Linked DNA regions of Homo sapiens: all the other regions are reported to be linked to region 3. The links are microRNA targets in miRTarBase. Many come from high-throughput screens and were not tested one by one. Region 3 holds a microRNA gene; each other region holds the end of a gene's coding sequence.

Evidence for each region. The annotated mature microRNA hsa-miR-2467-3p reads AGCAGAGGCAGAGAGGCUCAGG and lies in region 3 at 1,564-1,585, shown strand. An mRNA with a match to its seed (bases 2 to 7 or 8) in the 3' UTR can be bound and repressed. Matches are read on the target gene's strand: a 7mer-m8 pairs with bases 2 to 8, a 7mer-A1 pairs with bases 2 to 7 and ends in A, and an 8mer does both.
Region 1: the mRNA of FKBP8 is a reported target of hsa-miR-2467-3p. Seed matches in the 3' UTR shown: 8mer at 542-549.
Region 2: the mRNA of MPZL3 is a reported target of hsa-miR-2467-3p. Seed matches in the 3' UTR shown: 7mer-m8 at 1,197-1,203.
Region 4: miRTarBase lists ZYG11A as a target of hsa-miR-2467-3p. Seed matches in the 3' UTR shown: 7mer-m8 at 1,318-1,324.

What each region holds. Positions count from the first base shown.
Region 1 is chr19:18,528,624-18,532,688 of GRCh38, reverse strand. It overlaps FKBP8 (FKBP prolyl isomerase 8), which reads left to right. Exons shown (of 9, transcript NM_012181.5): 8 at 1-25; 9 at 434-926. The coding sequence ends at 520. Among named protein-coding and RNA genes, the nearest start is that of ELL, 8.6 kb to the right of the region's middle. RefSeq lists an enhancer at 2,296-3,181.
Region 2 is chr11:118,226,195-118,230,259 of GRCh38, reverse strand. MPZL3 (myelin protein zero like 3) reads left to right here. Exons shown (of 6, transcript NM_198275.3): 6 at 340-3,570. The coding sequence ends at 366. Among named protein-coding and RNA genes, the nearest start is that of JAML, 3.2 kb to the right of the region's middle.
Region 3 is chr2:239,349,252-239,353,316 of GRCh38, reverse strand. MIR2467 (microRNA 2467) reads left to right here and starts at 1,513; the gene lies at 1,513-1,593. HDAC4 (histone deacetylase 4) reads left to right here. Exons shown (of 27, transcript NM_001378414.1): 2 at 399-639. The coding sequence starts at 618. RefSeq lists a silencer at 657-850.
Region 4 is chr1:52,892,576-52,896,575 of GRCh38, forward strand. It overlaps ZYG11A (zyg-11 family member A, cell cycle regulator), which reads left to right. Exons shown (of 14, transcript NM_001004339.3): 14 at 207-2,423. The coding sequence ends at 382. ECHDC2 (enoyl-CoA hydratase domain containing 2) reads right to left here. Exons shown (of 10, transcript NM_001198961.2): 10 at 3,335-4,000. The coding sequence ends at 3,945. Among named protein-coding and RNA genes, the nearest start is that of ECHDC2, 27 kb to the right of the region's middle.

The DNA.
Region 1 (4,065 bases), not on the chromosome of region 3:
TAAGTGCCCTGGCAAGGGTGCCTGGGTGAGCTGGGGCACAGAATGGGCAGGGGCTGTGTGCAGGGCACGCCTAGCAGAGGGATTTTATTTTGCATACATGGATGTCCTCGGAGACTGGGCCGTCCTGGGCGATGCAGGGGACGTGGAGAGAGCCCAGCCCTGTGTGATCATGAGTGGAGTCGAAGGTGGAACTCAAGCTGGAGGGCTGGGGGTGGACTGTGGAGCCTCTTCCAGGGCACGAGGGGCGGTGTCCTGGAGGAGGGGCCATTTGATTTGGGTTTTGCTGCATGAGTAGGAGTTTGCCAGGAAGTGGGAAATACATAGTCAGGCAATGATTTGTTGGGAGGTCTGTTTGGGCTGTGCTGGCAGCTGAGGCCCCAGAGGCCAGTCTTGACCTCCCTCCACCCTTCTCTCCCCTCCTTTTTATCCACAGTCCATCCCATGGAAGTGGCTGTTTGGGGCGACTGCTGTTGCCTTGGGGGGTGTGGCACTCTCTGTGGTCATCGCTGCCAGGAACTGACCACCTAGGTGGCTGCCACCCCCTCTGCACACCATGGACCCTGCCCTGCGCTCCCCAACTCCCCCAGGCTCCCTGTCCACTGCCCTCCCTGGTCTGGCCCCCTCCTCCGGGTTAGGGGAGCAAGGATTGGGGGTCGTGCAGCCCAGCCAGCAGGAGGGACTGAGGCCCTCTAGGAGGAAAGCCCAGAGGGAGGGGGCCCTCATTCCTTCAGACCCAGTTTTCCCCCACCCTCCTTACCCCGCTGGGCTAGGTCTCCGCCAGGGCTGGCCTCAGTTTCTCCTCAACAGGCCTGGGGGCAGCCCTTCCCCTGCCTAGTCCCCGCCTGAGTGCCAGCCCCCCACCCCGCCTGCCGCCCCCTGTCCAGGTTCCCTCCCCGCCACAGTGAAATAAAGCATCCCACCCTGCAGTTTCCACGGACTCCTGAGCTTTCTTCTCCCGCTGTCTGGGGCTGGGCCAGAGACAGCCTGTGATGCATCTGGAGTCACACAGCATGGTGGATGTGGTTGAGCCAGCTGGAGCTGGGGGTCTCCTCTCCGGGCACAACATACTCACTTTACAGAGGAGAAACTGAGGCATAGAGAAGTGGGGTGATGTAGCAGGGGCAAGTGGGTTGAGAGGTCTGACTCAGCTGGACTCTGGGGGTGTTACTGCCCAGCTCCACTCGTTACCCCAGCGTTCACTGTTTACTCACCTGAAATCCAGGACCCCAGTGGGCCCTACCTTGAGGCTGCTGCATGGGTTCTGTGGCATCATTGCTTTACCTAGTGGATGTACTGAATTCAAAAGAGACAGATGGTAGGAGGATGACTTGAGCACAGGAATTTGAGGCTTTAGTGAGCTATGATTGCACCACTGCACTCCAGCCTAGGCTGGAAGACCTCACCAGAGTGAGGTCTCTCTTTTTATTATTTATTTATTTATTTATTTATTTTTGAGACGGAGTCTCACTCTGTCACCAGGCTGAAGTACAGTGGCACGATCTCTGCTCACTGCAACCTCCACTTCCCGGGTTCAAGCAATTCTTCTGTCTCAGCCTCCCGAGTAGCTGGGACTACAGGCGCACGCCACCATGCGCAGCTAATTTTTGTATTTTTAGTAGAGACAGGGTTTCACCATGTTGGTCAGGATGGTCTTGATCTCTTGACCTTGTGATCTGCCTGCCTAGGCCTCCCAAAGTGCTGGGATTACAGGTGTGAGTCACCGTGCCCGGCTCTTTTTTTTTTTTTTTTTTTTGAGACAGAGTCTTGCTCTGTGGCCCCGGCTGGAGTGCAGTGGCGTGATCTTGGCTCACTGCAAGCTCCGCCTCCCGGGTTCATGCCATTCTCCTGCCTCAGCCTCCCGAGTAGCTGAGACTACAGGCGCCTGCCACCACGCCTGGCTAATTTTTTGTATTTTTGGTAGAGACGGGGTTTCACCGTGTTAGCCAGGATGGTCTGGATCTCCTGACCTCGTGATCCACCTGCCTTGGCCTCCCAAAGTGCTGGGATTACAGGCGTGAGCCACCGCGCCCGGCCTTTTTTTTTTTTTAATAAAGAGGTGGGGTGTAGTGTCATGGCCTGTAATTTCAGCTCTTTGGAAGCCAGGGTGGGAGGGTCGCTTGAGCCCAGCCTGGTCAACACAGTGAGATTCCATCTATGTTTAAAAAAAAAGTGCACCAGGCACAGTGGTTCCCACCTGTAATCCCAGCACTTTGGGAGGCCGAGGTGGGTGGATCACTTGAGCTCAGGAGTTCCAGACCAGCCTGCCCAACATAGTGAAACCCCAGCTCTACTTAAAATACAAAAATTAGCTGGGTGTAGTGGCACATGCCTGTAATCCCAGCTACTCGGGAGGCAGAGGTTGCAGTGAACCGAGATCATGGGACTACACTGCAGCCTGGGCAACACAGGGAGACTTCATCTCAAAACAAGAGACAGATGGGGTCCAGGGGAGAGGATGTGAATGTCTGGATGCAGCCTGTGAGAAGGCACAGCTGGAGGCCCAGGAAGACCTCTCCCAGGGGATGTGTGCGCTGATATTTCAGCGATGGCAAGGGTCTGCCCATGCAGGAAGCCGACAGCCCCAGGTCTGGGCAACAGCACGCCCAGTACAAAGACCCTGGGGCCAGGTCTAGCCTGGTGCATTCCAGATGGATGAGGCTGGGTAGCCTGCAGAGCCATACCCTGCAGGGCTTTAGGGGCCATGAGGAAGGGCCAGGGTTGATGCTGGGAGGTTCCCTGATCCCATCTGGCTCTCCCAACTCTGGACTCTGGGAGCTTCTCCTATGATGCCGCTCACCAGTGCAGCCAGGATGGGCGGAGCCAGCATCGGGGCCTCTGTCAGCCCAGCACCCACACCCTTTCTTCCTGCTGTTCCATCTTGCCCCCAAGAATAAGGGCATCCTTGAAAATAGACCACTACAGTCACCTCACCTGCATCTATCCCCTTACAGCCCAGGAGGGAAAGCTGCCTGCCACAGCCACCCAGGAGAAGTTGGTGCAGAAGGGAGGTTGGAGGGCCTCCCAAAGGCCTAGGACTCCAATCTACACCTCCACCTCACCCACTCACCCGCTTCTTCCAGGCCCTTGTTCTCTGGGTCACCTGGATGACTTGAGGCTGAGTGTGGCTTGAGGCTGTGCTCTCTTTCCAGTGGTTAGCCCCAGGTTCAGGCAATTCTCCTGCCTCAACCTCCCAAGTAGCTGGGATTACAGGCATGTGCCACCACACCCAGCTAATTTTTTTTTTTTTTTTTTGCATGCCAGCTCTGTCACCCAGGCTGGAGTGCAGTGGCATGATCTCAGCTCACTGCAACCTCTGACCTCTGCCTCCCGGGTTCAAGCGATTCTCCTGCCTCAGCTTCCCAAGTAGCTGGGATTACAGGTGCACGCCACCACACCTGGCCAATTTTTTTTATTATTTATTTATTTTCGAGATGGGGTCTTGCTCTGTCACCCAGGCTGGAGTGCAGTGGCCCAATCTTAGCTTACTGCAGCCTCCGCCTCCAGGGTTCAAGCAGTTCTCCCACCTCAGCCTCTCAAGTAGCTTGGGATTACAGGGGCACGCAACCAAGCTTGACTAATTTTTTTTTTTTTTTTTTTGAGACAGTCTCGCTCTGTAACCCAGGTTGGAGTGCAGTGGCATGATCTTGTTCACTGCTACCTCTGCCTCCCAGATCACGGTTCAAGCGATTCTCCTGCCTCGTCTCCCGAGTAGCTGAGATTACAGGCACACGCCACCATGCCCAGATAATTTTTGTATTTTTAGTAGAGACGGGGTTTCACCATGTTGGCCACGCTGATCTTGAACTCCTGACCTCATGATCCACCCGCCTCGGCCTCCCAAAGTGCTGGGATTACAGACATGAGCCACCTCGCCTGGCCTTTTTTTTTTTGAGATGGAGTCTTGCTCTGTCATCCAGGCAGGAGTGCAGTGGTGCATCTTGGCTCACTGCAACCTCCGCCTCCAGAATTTAAGGGATTCACCTGCCTCATCCTCCTGAGTAGCTGGGATTACAGGTGCGTGCCACCACGCCCAGCTAATTTTGTATTTTTAGTAGAGACGGAGTT
Region 2 (4,065 bases), not on the chromosome of region 3:
GAGAGTGAGGAGAGGATCGCTGGGGTGATTCCACTGACACTTGTTTTGCTAAGAAAGGGTGCGGTAGGCGGGCATCTTTTCTTGTGTGTTGAGGTTCTAAAAAATATTCACCAAGGGAAAGGAAACCACTAGGGCTTCAAAGCAGAAATTAGCCCAATAGACACCAATTATATTGAGGTCCTGTGAAGCTCCGTGGGAATTTAGGTGTATTGAGTCAGTGGCATTTCACTGTGGCTGTCTCCCCAAGCCAGGTTCCATTTGGAGGATCCTAACATGTGGTCTTTGCCTAAATTCCAACTCTGGAATTGTGTTTCACACCTGCTGTTTTGCTCCCTCCAGGATTCAGACTATGAAGAGACATATTGATGAAAGTCTGTATGACACAAGAAGAGTCACCTAAAGACAGGAAACATCCCATTCCACTGGCAGCTAAAGCCTGTCAGAGAAAGTGGAGCTGGCCTGGACCATAGCGATGGACAATCCTGGAGATCATCAGTAAAGACTTTAGGAACCACTTATTTATTGAATAAATGTTCTTGTTGTATTTATAAACTGTTCAGGAACTCTCATAAGAGACTCATGACTTCCCCTTTCAATGAATTATGCTGTAATTGAATGAAGAAATTCTTTTCCTGAGCAAAAAGATACTTTTTGATTCATCTTTGCTCTGGAATGTATTACATGTTTTCTTCCAACTGTTTGAAGGAGAATTTTGAATGTTTGCCACACCGCTGATACCCAAATAATTTTTTAAATGAAGTGGAGCTTGTGGCTTCCTGATGTGTCACCAGACAAAATATTCGCTTGGGATATGTATTCTTTGTTTTTTGCTCCATGTACACTTTCAGCTGTGAGTTAGTATAGGGCGTATACTTACCGGTTTAATGACCTCAACCTCAGTTGTGTTTGGATAACTTAGGGTGTATACCCTTAGTTTCCTTAGAGTTGGTAGGATCAAGTCATTGGTTTGCTTTGACTGGGTTTTTAAAGTATTAAGTACAGTGTCATCAATTTACAGTTAAGGAAAGGAATCGTGAAGTAGAAAAATTATTTTCTTTAGTCTTGCTGGTACAATTTGGGCTAAGGAGTCTTTGTTATTTTCTGTCTTGCTTTTTTTTTTTTTTTTTTTTTTTTGAGGCAGAGTCTCACTCTGTCGCCAGGCTGGAGTGCAGTGGTGTGATCTTGGCTCACTGCAACCTCTGCCTCCTGGGTTCAAGCGATTCTTGTGCCTCAGCCTCTCGAGTAGCTGGGATTACAGGCATGCGCCACCACACCCAGCTAATTTTTGTGTTTTTAGTAGAGACGGGGTTTCACCATTTTGGCCAGGATGGTCTCAATCCCCTGACCTCGTGATCCACCTGCCTCGGCCTCCCAAAGTGTTGGGATTACAGGCATGAGCCACTGTGCTTGGCCTGTTATTTTATTTTCTTATAACTACAACTTTTCTTCTTGAATTTTCAGGTCAGAGGCAAGAAAAACTCTTTACAGGTTTTTAGTGGGGGGCTTATGGAGTATTTCAGGAGTTCTTTGCAAATTAAATCATCTTTTCACTTGTATTGTTTTTCAAAACTTTGTTGATTTCTAAAATGTGCCAACTGTGAGTAAACTATGGTATTTGCAAGTGGTTTTTACATAATATTTGAGATGAGGAAGTGAGATTGTGCATGACATACTTCTCCTTTGTATTCTCTCAGTGCCTTACAGCAGGTTACTCCATTCTGCTATGACAACTTGTTTCAAATGTTAATTTACATAGGATTTTTTATAAGCCATTAAGGCATATGTATAGTATATCAGTAAAGATGGATGGTGCATATATAAATAGTCTTCTGTAATAGTGATTGGATTTACTTCTCAATTATGAGAGACAAAAATTATCCCCTCACCTGTCTCTATTCTTTCAACAGGTTGATCCCTTTTCATGATTTTTCATTAGGTGGTTCAGGAAGTTTCCATATTACAGCGCTTCAGACTGTATATGTTAGTTTAAAAATCACTTTTCTCTCTCTCAACTTCTTTCTTTTTTTTTTGAAGACTTAATTTAAAAAATTTGGGTTGTTAGATCCGTATCATAGATTTGGCCTAGCCTCTTCTGTTAACCTAGTCCACAGATGAGCGAATCTGGTTAGTTGAAGGACATTGTGATTTGACTCTGGTCACGCGAGGAAGTAGAAGGGCAAAGACAGGACCGGCAGTTTACATTTCCAGTGGTTAAACCTCACGGTACTTTGGGACTGCTTGTTAACTTTTGTGGTTGTCTGAGGCCAATCTAACGTGACCATTTCTGACACCTCAACAGAGAGAGGAAAGCAACTTGAGCAATGAGAGTAAATAACTTGGGCTCTCAGAGATTTGAAGATAGAGATCTCATTGTGAGGGGGACTATTTTGCAGGTCCTCATTTCTCCAAGAAAGAGATGGTGTTACAGGAACCCACTGAAAGCCATATCCCATTAAATGAGGAACTAATTTTGGCTGGGCCTTCTTGTAATGTCCTCGCAGGTGTGTTGTGAAGATTAATGCAGGGTAGTATGTTTGTAGATTGACACCTAGTCTAAACTTGAGGTAATTGGTGCTCTGTGAATACTCAGTCGTGTTCTTTTATAGCCTTAATCATGATTTGAACTAGTCCCTTGCTTTTTAAATGACTGAATGAAGTCCTTCGTGGTAAGGGAGTACGTTGATAACTTAGTTTACTATATGGGTTTGTGGTCGCATCCCAGTCATCAGCTGCTATCATTTTCCTTCTTCATCCCTTATACTGAGATTTGGGTTACAGCTTTTTATTCTTCGAAGGATCACAAAGCAGTGTACAGACACCTGCCTTCTTTAAGGATGAAAGGAAGATAAAGTGGTCTTTTTTTGTTTACTTATTTGTTTCACCTCTTGTTTGAGTAACTTCTAAGGTGCTATTCTCTCTCTCTTTTTGCTACCTCATGAGCTCTTGTCACAGCCATGGAAACCAGCCTCGTTTAGAAAGGGAACTTAGTTCAGAAGGGGTTAAAAGCCTTCCAGAATTTTTCTTTAGCTGCTGAAGTTTTTACATGTGGTTACATGACTTTAAGTTTTATGCATTACGCTCTTAATTCTATTACAAAATGTGGACTCACCAATTGCTTTGTGTTTTCCATGTGACCTGTTACTTCAGGCTACTTGGGGAACATCTTAGTCCTCTGTAGCTCCTGAACCCAGCACTGGTGCTTCAAGAGAGAAGGTAGCACGTCTTTGTTCAAAACAAAACAAAACGACACTTCTGGAGGCCACATCCTGAATATGAATGTTCTACTAAGTCACTCAGTTATGGTTCTAAAGGGAAACTGTAAGAAGACCCACAAGGAGTGGACCAAGACTATTATTTAATTGCACAACTTGAAACTTTGCTGCCAGAAGAGGCAGCTCCATTCCTTTGACTCCAGTGTTGGGCTGTTAACTGCTGCACCTCATTGCCTTTTTTTGTTTTTGTTTTTGTTTTGTAGGAGGGTAGGCACTGTTGGGCCATATGCACAAATATTGTAACTCTTGGTATCTTTACTGCATCATAGTCAATAAACTTCTTTGTACCCTTTGGCTACCTTTTGGTGTGTGCATATCTACATAAAAGGTGGGAATTGTCATGTGAAAAAGATGGGGGTTTGTGGTATTAAAAGCTGAATTAAATTTAAAAGAGTTTAATTGAGCACAGAATGATTCATGAATCAGGCAGTCTCCTGAGCCAGAGTGGACTCAGAGACTCCAGCGCAGCCACGTGGTGGAAGATTTATGGACAGCAAAAGGAAAGTCATGTACAGGAAACAGAAGTGAGGTACAGAAATAGCCGGATTGGTTACAGCTCGGTGTTTGCCTTATTTGAATAGTTTGAATCATTGGCCATCTTCGATTGGCCAAACTCAGTGACTGGCACAAGAGTAGACTAGAGTCCGTATACTATTCCATTTACGTTATAGTTCATGATGTACAGAGAAACCTTTAGGCCAAACTTAAAATATGTAAGGAGGCAGCTTTAGGCTAAACTTGATTTAACAGTGGTTTTCAGCATCGTGCAACCAGTCATGTCGGAGCTGTACCC
Region 3 (4,065 bases):
TTGGTGGGGCGTGGTGGCTCAAGCCTGTAATCCCAGCACTTTGGGAGGCTGAGGTGGGTGGATCACTTGAGGTCAGGAGTTTGAGACCAGCCTGGGCCAACATGGCAAAACCCCGTTTCTACTAAAAATACAAAAATTAGCTGTGCCTGGTGGCATGCACCTGTGTTCCCAGCTACTCGGGAGGCTGAGGCAGGAGAATTGCTCGAACCCAGGGTTGCAGGGGTGGTGGAGGTTGCAGTGAGCCCAGATCGTGCCACCACACTCCAGCCTGGGCGATAGAGCAAGATTCTGTCTCCAAAAAAAAAGAGGAAGTCATCATTTCCCTAGTTGGATGTTGTTTTCCAGATCGGAACTTCCATGTTGTAACTCCAGTCTCTTTTCTCCTTCTGACCTTGCAGGTTCATCTGCAGAAGCCAGCGGACGCCTCTGTTCAACTTGTGGGTTACCTGGCTCATGAGACCTTGCCGGCGAGGCTCGGCGCTTGAACGTCTGTGACCCAGCCCTCACCGTCCCGGTACTTGTATGTGTTGGTGGGAGTTTGGAGCTCGTTGGAGCTATCGTTTCCGTGGAAATTTTGAGCCATTTCGAATCACTTAAAGGAGTGGACATTGCTAGCAATGAGCTCCCAAAGCCATCCAGGTAAGGCCGGGTCATTTCTTCTCTGGGCACACAGCGGGGCTTTCTTTGCCCAAAGTAGAAGTTCTTGTGACTGCAGCTTGCTTTCTGGATTTGAGACTTTTGTTTTTCTTGATAGTGGTCACTGTTGGTTTTTGACAGCACAAAGTGCAAAATGGATGGTTTATTCTTCCTCTTGGTGAAAGAAGAATGATAAAACCTGGGAGGATGTGGAGTCAAGTCTGCGACCCCGGTTTGCAGGCTGACTTGAGAGGCACACAGGTTTCCTCGATGCTTTTTGACAAGGGTGATGTTGAAAGGTCAGGTTGTGATGTGGAGAGCTGGTTTCTTGCCCAGTGTCTTTGTTGTTTCATGAGGGGTTGTGTGAGGGGTGGGAGTGCTCCTCCAACTGGGCGTCTGGGCTGTCTGGGAAGAAGCTCATGTTCCCACTGAGGTCGTGGCCACAGTTGCTCCTGGTGTTTGAGGGCCTCTGTGAGGGGCTGCACTAAGCATTTTACAAGCATTTAGTACAGCCCCAGATCATCTCAGGCCTGGAGGGAAGAAGTAATTTGCCTGAGGTCACAGAGCTGGTAGGTGGGGGACCCACATGATTGGGAAGCAAGCTTGTCCTGCTCTGAGCTTCAGAAGCATGTCATGGGCCCATCCATTTACGACTTCACACTTTCTGTCCTTGGAAAGTCACCGAGAGCGTGCACCATAATGAAACCTCGAGGCCTGCCGCCGACCTGCCTGAGTGTGGGGCTCCTGCAGAGCCAGTCCTGTGCTGCCCAGCTTCCTGCCACTTCCAGCGCACCGTGGCCTTCAAGGGCACTTAGCCATCGACTTCTGTCTTGCGTCCACATGAGAGAGAAGACGGTGGCCACTGGACAGACGCTTGGACAGGCACCTGAGGCTCTGTTAGCCTTGGCTCTGGGTCCTGCTCCTTAGAGCAGAGGCAGAGAGGCTCAGGGTCTGTCTGGGTCACTCTCTTTGAGATTGCCGGAACGCTTACACACATCTTTCCCTGGGTGGAATCGTCTTTGTCTGAAAATTCCAGAGGGCAAGATTCCAGGTTTTTTTAGATATGAAAGTTTTATTGAGTTAAATTGTTTATGTATTGACTGATGTAAAGAAATGGTTTATGATCATTCCAAGACAAAATTAAGCGCTATGGCTCAAAGTGTCTAAATAGACATTGAATGGAGCTGGCTCTCTCCCTCCTACACTGGGCTGCTGTTGGGTGAGAGTGTATCTTTTTTCTGTGTCTAAACATAGTGTGATGTGTGTGAGCATTTTCATAGAGTATAATTCTATAGGCAGGGCCCTGTGTTTTACATTCTGTCCATTTTAATGTGTTATAAGCATCTTTTGGTATCAGTATGTGTGCAAATATAACTTGCTCTTTTGATACCTTGCGAATGGATATTTATGTGGTTGTAGCAGTGTTTATACCAATTCCAAATTGGCATCAAACAATTATTATACATATATTTTGTAAACTTCTAAGTATCACTACTAGACAAATTCCAGGAAGTGGAAGCTGGGTCAGTGAGCCCGTGCACTTAAAACATCATTAGGTTGACTGTCAAATTGCTCCAGAAGCCTCGTTCCAACTGATCTTCCTAATTCCAGTGTAAGAGGATGCATATTTTTCATTTGTGCTGTACCAGCACTGGGTAGGTTCAGTCTCTCTCATTTTTGTCAGTGTGCTATGGGAAAATTATTGTTTGAGTACACTTGATTATTTTAATGGGGGTGCATATTTTTGTATGACTTGGTGTACACATAATCATAATTTGTACATGCTCTGCAGGCATTTGAAGAGAAAGTATGCTCTTAGGATTTTGTTTCAGTCTAAAGACGTCTGTATGTATGTATCAATATTGTATTTAAAGTTCTCGGCCGGGCGCAGAGGCCCACAGCTGTAATCCCAGCACTTCGGAAGGTCAGGGTGGGCAGATCACAAGGTCAAGAGATTGAGACCATTCTGACCAACATAGTGAAACCCCATCTCTACTAAAAATACAAAAATTAGCTGGGCGTGGTGGCGTGTGCCTGTAGTCCCAGCTACCCAGGAGGCTCAGGCAGGATAATCGCTTGAACCTGGGAGGCAGAGGTTGCAGTGAGCTGAGATTGCGCCACTGTACTTCAGCCTGGCGACAGAGCAAGACTCCGTCTCAAAAAAAAAAGTTCTCTCATTTATATATATTTTATTTATATATAGGAGGATATGTATCCTTTCTTTATATGTTGTTTTAATTATATATTAACTCAGTTGAGTTATTTAAATCAGTATAGCTTTACTTATTTTTTTCTGTCTGCTCGATTTCTTGGAAAAGTGTATTTTTCTACTGTGATTATAGTCTTATAATATTCTTTTTACATTAATAACCATTTTTTGCTTTATATAGTTCAGTGTTTTTTTTTAAAGCTTAAAAATTAATGACTGTTCTTTTGGTAGATCAGGTCTCTTATCAAAATATAATATATTTCTCTTTGTTTAATGTTTCTTTGACCGAGAGCTTATAGTGTTTCATGAGGTATTTCTACCCTTGGTTTCTTTTGGCTAACAAATATTTCTCCATCCGCTTGTCTCTAACCTTTTCAGGCCGGGTTCTTTGAGGCTCAGCTCTGGAAACCGCGGGGTGCTGGGTTTGTTTGGCCTTTTCTGTGGGAATTTCAGCCGCTGCGGTTCAGTTTGATCACCGGCCTGCCCGGGCCTGTCCTGCCCATGTGAGTTGGGTTGTGTGCGCCTTATTGCCACCCACGACCTCTCCATTCTCTCTCTCAGTGGGTTGGAGGCTGAAGACAGGCCGCACTGGTGAGGGCAGGGCTGCCCCTTGGCCCAGCCCATTCTCTGCTCTCCATCTGTGCAGGGGGTACAGCTGAGGTGGTTTGCCTGGGGCCTGAAGTCTGCTGGCTGCCTCCTCTGCCCTGTCCGCTGTCATCTTTCCCTGCCGTGTCTGCCCTTCCGCCCGGAGGTCCCTTGGGAGGCAGGACCCCTTGTGCCCAACACGTGCATACCACCACCTGCACACACTGGCTGGTGGCCCAGCGGCCTCTGCCCACGTCTCAGGCGGGGGATGGGGCTTGCCCAGAACCGTGCCCTCCCTCCTGGGCGAGGCCCACTCGCTTGTGTGCCTTCCCAAGCAGCTCCATCCCCAGAGATCTCTAGTTTCGGGAAGTTCCTCTGTGTTTCTTGTCAGCTGATGCACCTGTCCGTCCGCTCCCAGGCATTGCTGGAAGTGCTTTCCAATCCTGCTTTTCATCATTTTAGTGGGTTTTGGGAGGAAGAGAAATCATTAATACTAAAGGATTCAGTTTGCTCTCTTGAGCGGGAAATTTCTAGGTGTGTCAGAGCACAGCCACGGAACCGCTGTCCCTTTTCCTTGAGCCGAGGAGCCGAGTCCTGGCAACGTGGTGTTCGGGGCCTACCTGGCTGCACCTCCC
Region 4 (4,000 bases), not on the chromosome of region 3:
AAACATACTAAAATGAGCATCTGTTACCTCATACAAGCCAAGCAAGTTTTGAAGAACTGCTTTAGAATTGACTCATTTTATCTGTTAATTCCTAGGCCAAAGAGCTTAAACCTTTGTATTGTTTCTTCAGCAAGGTGAATGTGGTGACATGGGAGTATTTAAAATGCCAGTTGTCCATGGAGTGTCTCTGCTTGATTTTCTTTCAGCCAGCAAATACTGCAAAATGTTAGTTGAAGAAGAAGGATTGCAGCTTTTGTGTGATATCCAGGAGCACAGTGAGGCAACCCCCAAAGCACAGCAGATTGCAGCCTCCATTCTGGATGACTTCAGAATGCATTTCATGAATTATCAGAGGCCCACTCTGTGTCAAATGCCCTTCTGAACCTAAGGAATTTCAGAGGTGTGTGCTCTTCCTCAATGTCAGGTGTTCTGCCCTGGCAGTAATTGCACATCAGTTGTCATTGGAGTTTGTGAGTTGGCTGTCTCATTGGCCTTTGATTGTTGATTTTATATATGTTACAAAAGGTTGGATTTGTATGATAGCTGTAATCCCAAGTCAAGTTGGACTCATTCTGCAGCCTTTCAGCAGCAATTTTGAAGACTCAAACCGTGGACTCTGGGAAGGCCTGGGAGCTTGTGTTGGAACAGCTATGCAAGTTACTTTTCTCTAGCCTTGGACAATTTTTTCCCTTTGGGAGCTTGTCATGGGAGTGGGACCTGTTCACTAGAAGAGAAAGGAAACCTACAGGGAGACTTTGATATTTATATTAAATTTCCTTTGTTGTTATCGTCATGTGAAGCTATGAGAAAAGCTTGGGAAGCATATGCTTCAAAATGTAGTGTTTAGAAGGCAGAACCCCTGTTGGAGAGCGGGGAAAAGAATTTATTTATTTATTTATTTATCTATGGCTGGGTATGGTGGCTCACGCCTGTAATCCCAGCACTTTGGGAGGCCAAGGCAGGTGGATTGTCTGAACTCAGGAGTTCGAGATCAGCCTTGCCAACGTGGTAAAACTCCGTCTCTACCAAAAAATACAAAAATTAGCTGAGCGTGGTGGTGTGCACCTTTACTCCTAGCTACTTGGAGGCTGAGGTGGGAGGACCACTTGAGCCCAGGAGGCAGAGGTTGCAGTGAGCTGAGATTGCACCACTGCACTCCAGCCTGGATGACAGAGTGAGACCTCATCTCAAATGAATAGAGGGGTGGAGAAAAGAGAAATATATTTTTTTACCTTTTTTTTTTTTTTTTTTTTTGTGACGGAATCTCGCTCTGTCGCCCAGGCTGGAGTGCAGTGGCACAATCTCGGCTCACTGCAACCTCTGCCTCCCAGGTTCCAGCAATTCTCCTGCCTCAGCCTCCTGAGTAGCTGGGACTACAGGCACATGCCGCCACGCCCGGCTAATTTTTGTATTTTTTAGTAGAGACAGGGTTTCACCATATTGGTCAGGCTGGTCTCGACCTCCTGACCTCGTGATCCACCCGTCTCGGCCTCCCAAAGTGCTGGGATTACAGGTGTGAGTCACTGCACCTGGCCTTTTTACAATTTTGGGTGTCTATCTTTGGCATGTTTCCTGTTATGTGAGCATGACATGCTGTGTATGTGAGTGAGCTTGTAGGGCGTGGTGGGACTTAGGCATTTGCAGACAGTGTTTAGATGAAAGATTACATGTAATGATAAATCTGAATCCCTCCATTTTATTTGGGTGGAACCATGACCAAAAATGGTAGGAAGACGAAAGGCCAGAAAGAGACTTTGCCAGAGAGTTCACGGAGTTTTCTTACCCCGCATGCTGACTAAAGAAAACATGGGCTTTTCTGAAACCAGCTTCAACTACAGTATAAACTATATCAGAAGCTTACTTGATAAGCCTTGCGGAGCTGCTCTGAGGAATAGTGTGAATTCCTTCCTTGCCTTATTGTTGACTGTTAATGAACATGTTTTGTCATTTATCTGTTTAAGTTTTTCAGAAAATAAAAGTAAATTTCTGTTAGCACATTTTAGGATTAGATTTTTGTGCTTTTGGCTGGCTTGGTTCAGATTCTTAACTAGAGTACCATGTACTGTCTTTGGAAATCAAATGAGGAAGAAGCTCATTCTCTTACTCTAAACCATGTTCCAAACTATTACCAGAGTCCAACCAGATAAGCAGAATTTGTAACCTTACTTCCTTCCATAGTCCTTAAACTGTACTGTATTTTTTCACACTCTTGCATGATTCCAAAAGGATATCTTCCTGACCTGGGTTCTAGTACCTCAGAGCATTGTTATCAGATGCTAGCTTATTCTAATGTGAGGATGTGTTAGGGGAACTAGTGTGTTAAGTCCAATTCTGTACAAGACATCCTTTCAAGTTCTGTGTCATTCACAACAATCCTCACGGGTAGGTGAGTTTTATTTTCCTCACTTAACAGATGAGAAAAAGGAAGTTCAGTAAGGTGGTTACTTTCCTGGGTTGTCATAGCTGGTGTGGTTTGTGCTGACTGTAAAGGCCTGGGCTCTCCTGTGTTATTCTTCCTTCCAGGATGCAAGCATAACCCTGGGAGCACATTTGTATTTTGCAGAAATCCGCAATGTTATTTATATTGTATCCATGCCCATGGTTTAGTGACTCTAGGCCAGGCTGAGGCTCAGCTTAGCCAGCGCTCAGATCCAGTTGGAGAATGACTGCAAAGGCATAGCTTAAGATGTAGCCTTGGTACCAGAGGAGGGAGGGGTATTGGGACCAGTATGGTTATGTATCAGCCTGCTCTTGGTTTTCTAAGTGTATCATCCTCTTCCTCACCTTTGCTCATGCTGTGTCAAGCTTCCTCTTCTGTACTTGAAATGTTCCTTAATCCTTCAGGCTTCAATTCCAATGTTAGTTGCCCATTTCCGGATCCTCCCTTCTTTCCATTAGAGTTAATTGCCCCTTTCTTCTCAGTGCTCCTAAATGCTATCAAAGAGTCTCCTGGAGGCTAGGTGTAGTGGCATACACCTGTAATCCCAGCACTTTGGGAGGCCCAGGCGGGCGGATTGCTTGAGCCCAATAGTTCAAGACCAGCCTGGGTGATATGGCGAAATCCTGTCTCTACAAAAAAATACAAAAATTAGCTGGGCATGGTGGCATTTGCCTGTAGTCCCAGCTACTCCAGAGGCTGAGGTGGGAGGATCACTTGAGCCTGGGAAGTGGAGGCTGCAGTGACCTGAGATGGCGCCACTGCACTCTAGCCTGGAGCCTGGGTGGCAGAGTGAGACCCTGTCTCAAAAAATAAAAAGAATTTTCTGCCACCCTGTAGTTTACAAAAGTGTTTCACAGTGATGATTTCGTTTGGTCCTCACGAAAACACTGTAAGTTAACAATTAAAACATATTTATTGAATATGAAGTGTTTTTATTTTGCTAAATCTTCACAAGTTTTGTTTTGTAGGTGAGGAAGCTGAGGCCCAGAGCATTTAAACAATTTGTCCACGGTTATACAGCAAGTAACTGGCAGAGACTGGGATCTGCAGTCTGACCCCTGACACATGTTCAACCGATGTCAGAGTTTATTTATTACCTCTGTTGTTCACAGGAAGAAACTAGGGGTATCTTAAAATCTTCTGACATCTCTAATGAGTGCCTGATAACTGAGAGAGGTCAGGGGCTGAGAGCCAATGATACCAAGACTCAGAGAGATCTAATTTAATTCTTTATCATTCAAGTAGAGAGACAGGCATTTTCCAAAGCAAACCCAACCCTCGTGATTATTTCTAGCCAGGGTGAAGCTAAGGAAGGTAGCAGTAGGTGGTAGGATCAGCACCTTGGTTCCAGGCATCACGCCAGTCATTTTATTTCCATCATCATCCTTGTGAAGAAATGGAAGTCTGGAGAGGTGAAATGATGAAGGCAATCTGGCCACAAATCTTCCTTCTGGATCCTGCTCTTCAGGGCATGCATCTCCCATGCTGAAGGTTAAAATGGGGGTCATTTGCCAACAAATTTGGGAGTCCGCTTCTCCCTGAAGGCTGCCATGCCCTCTA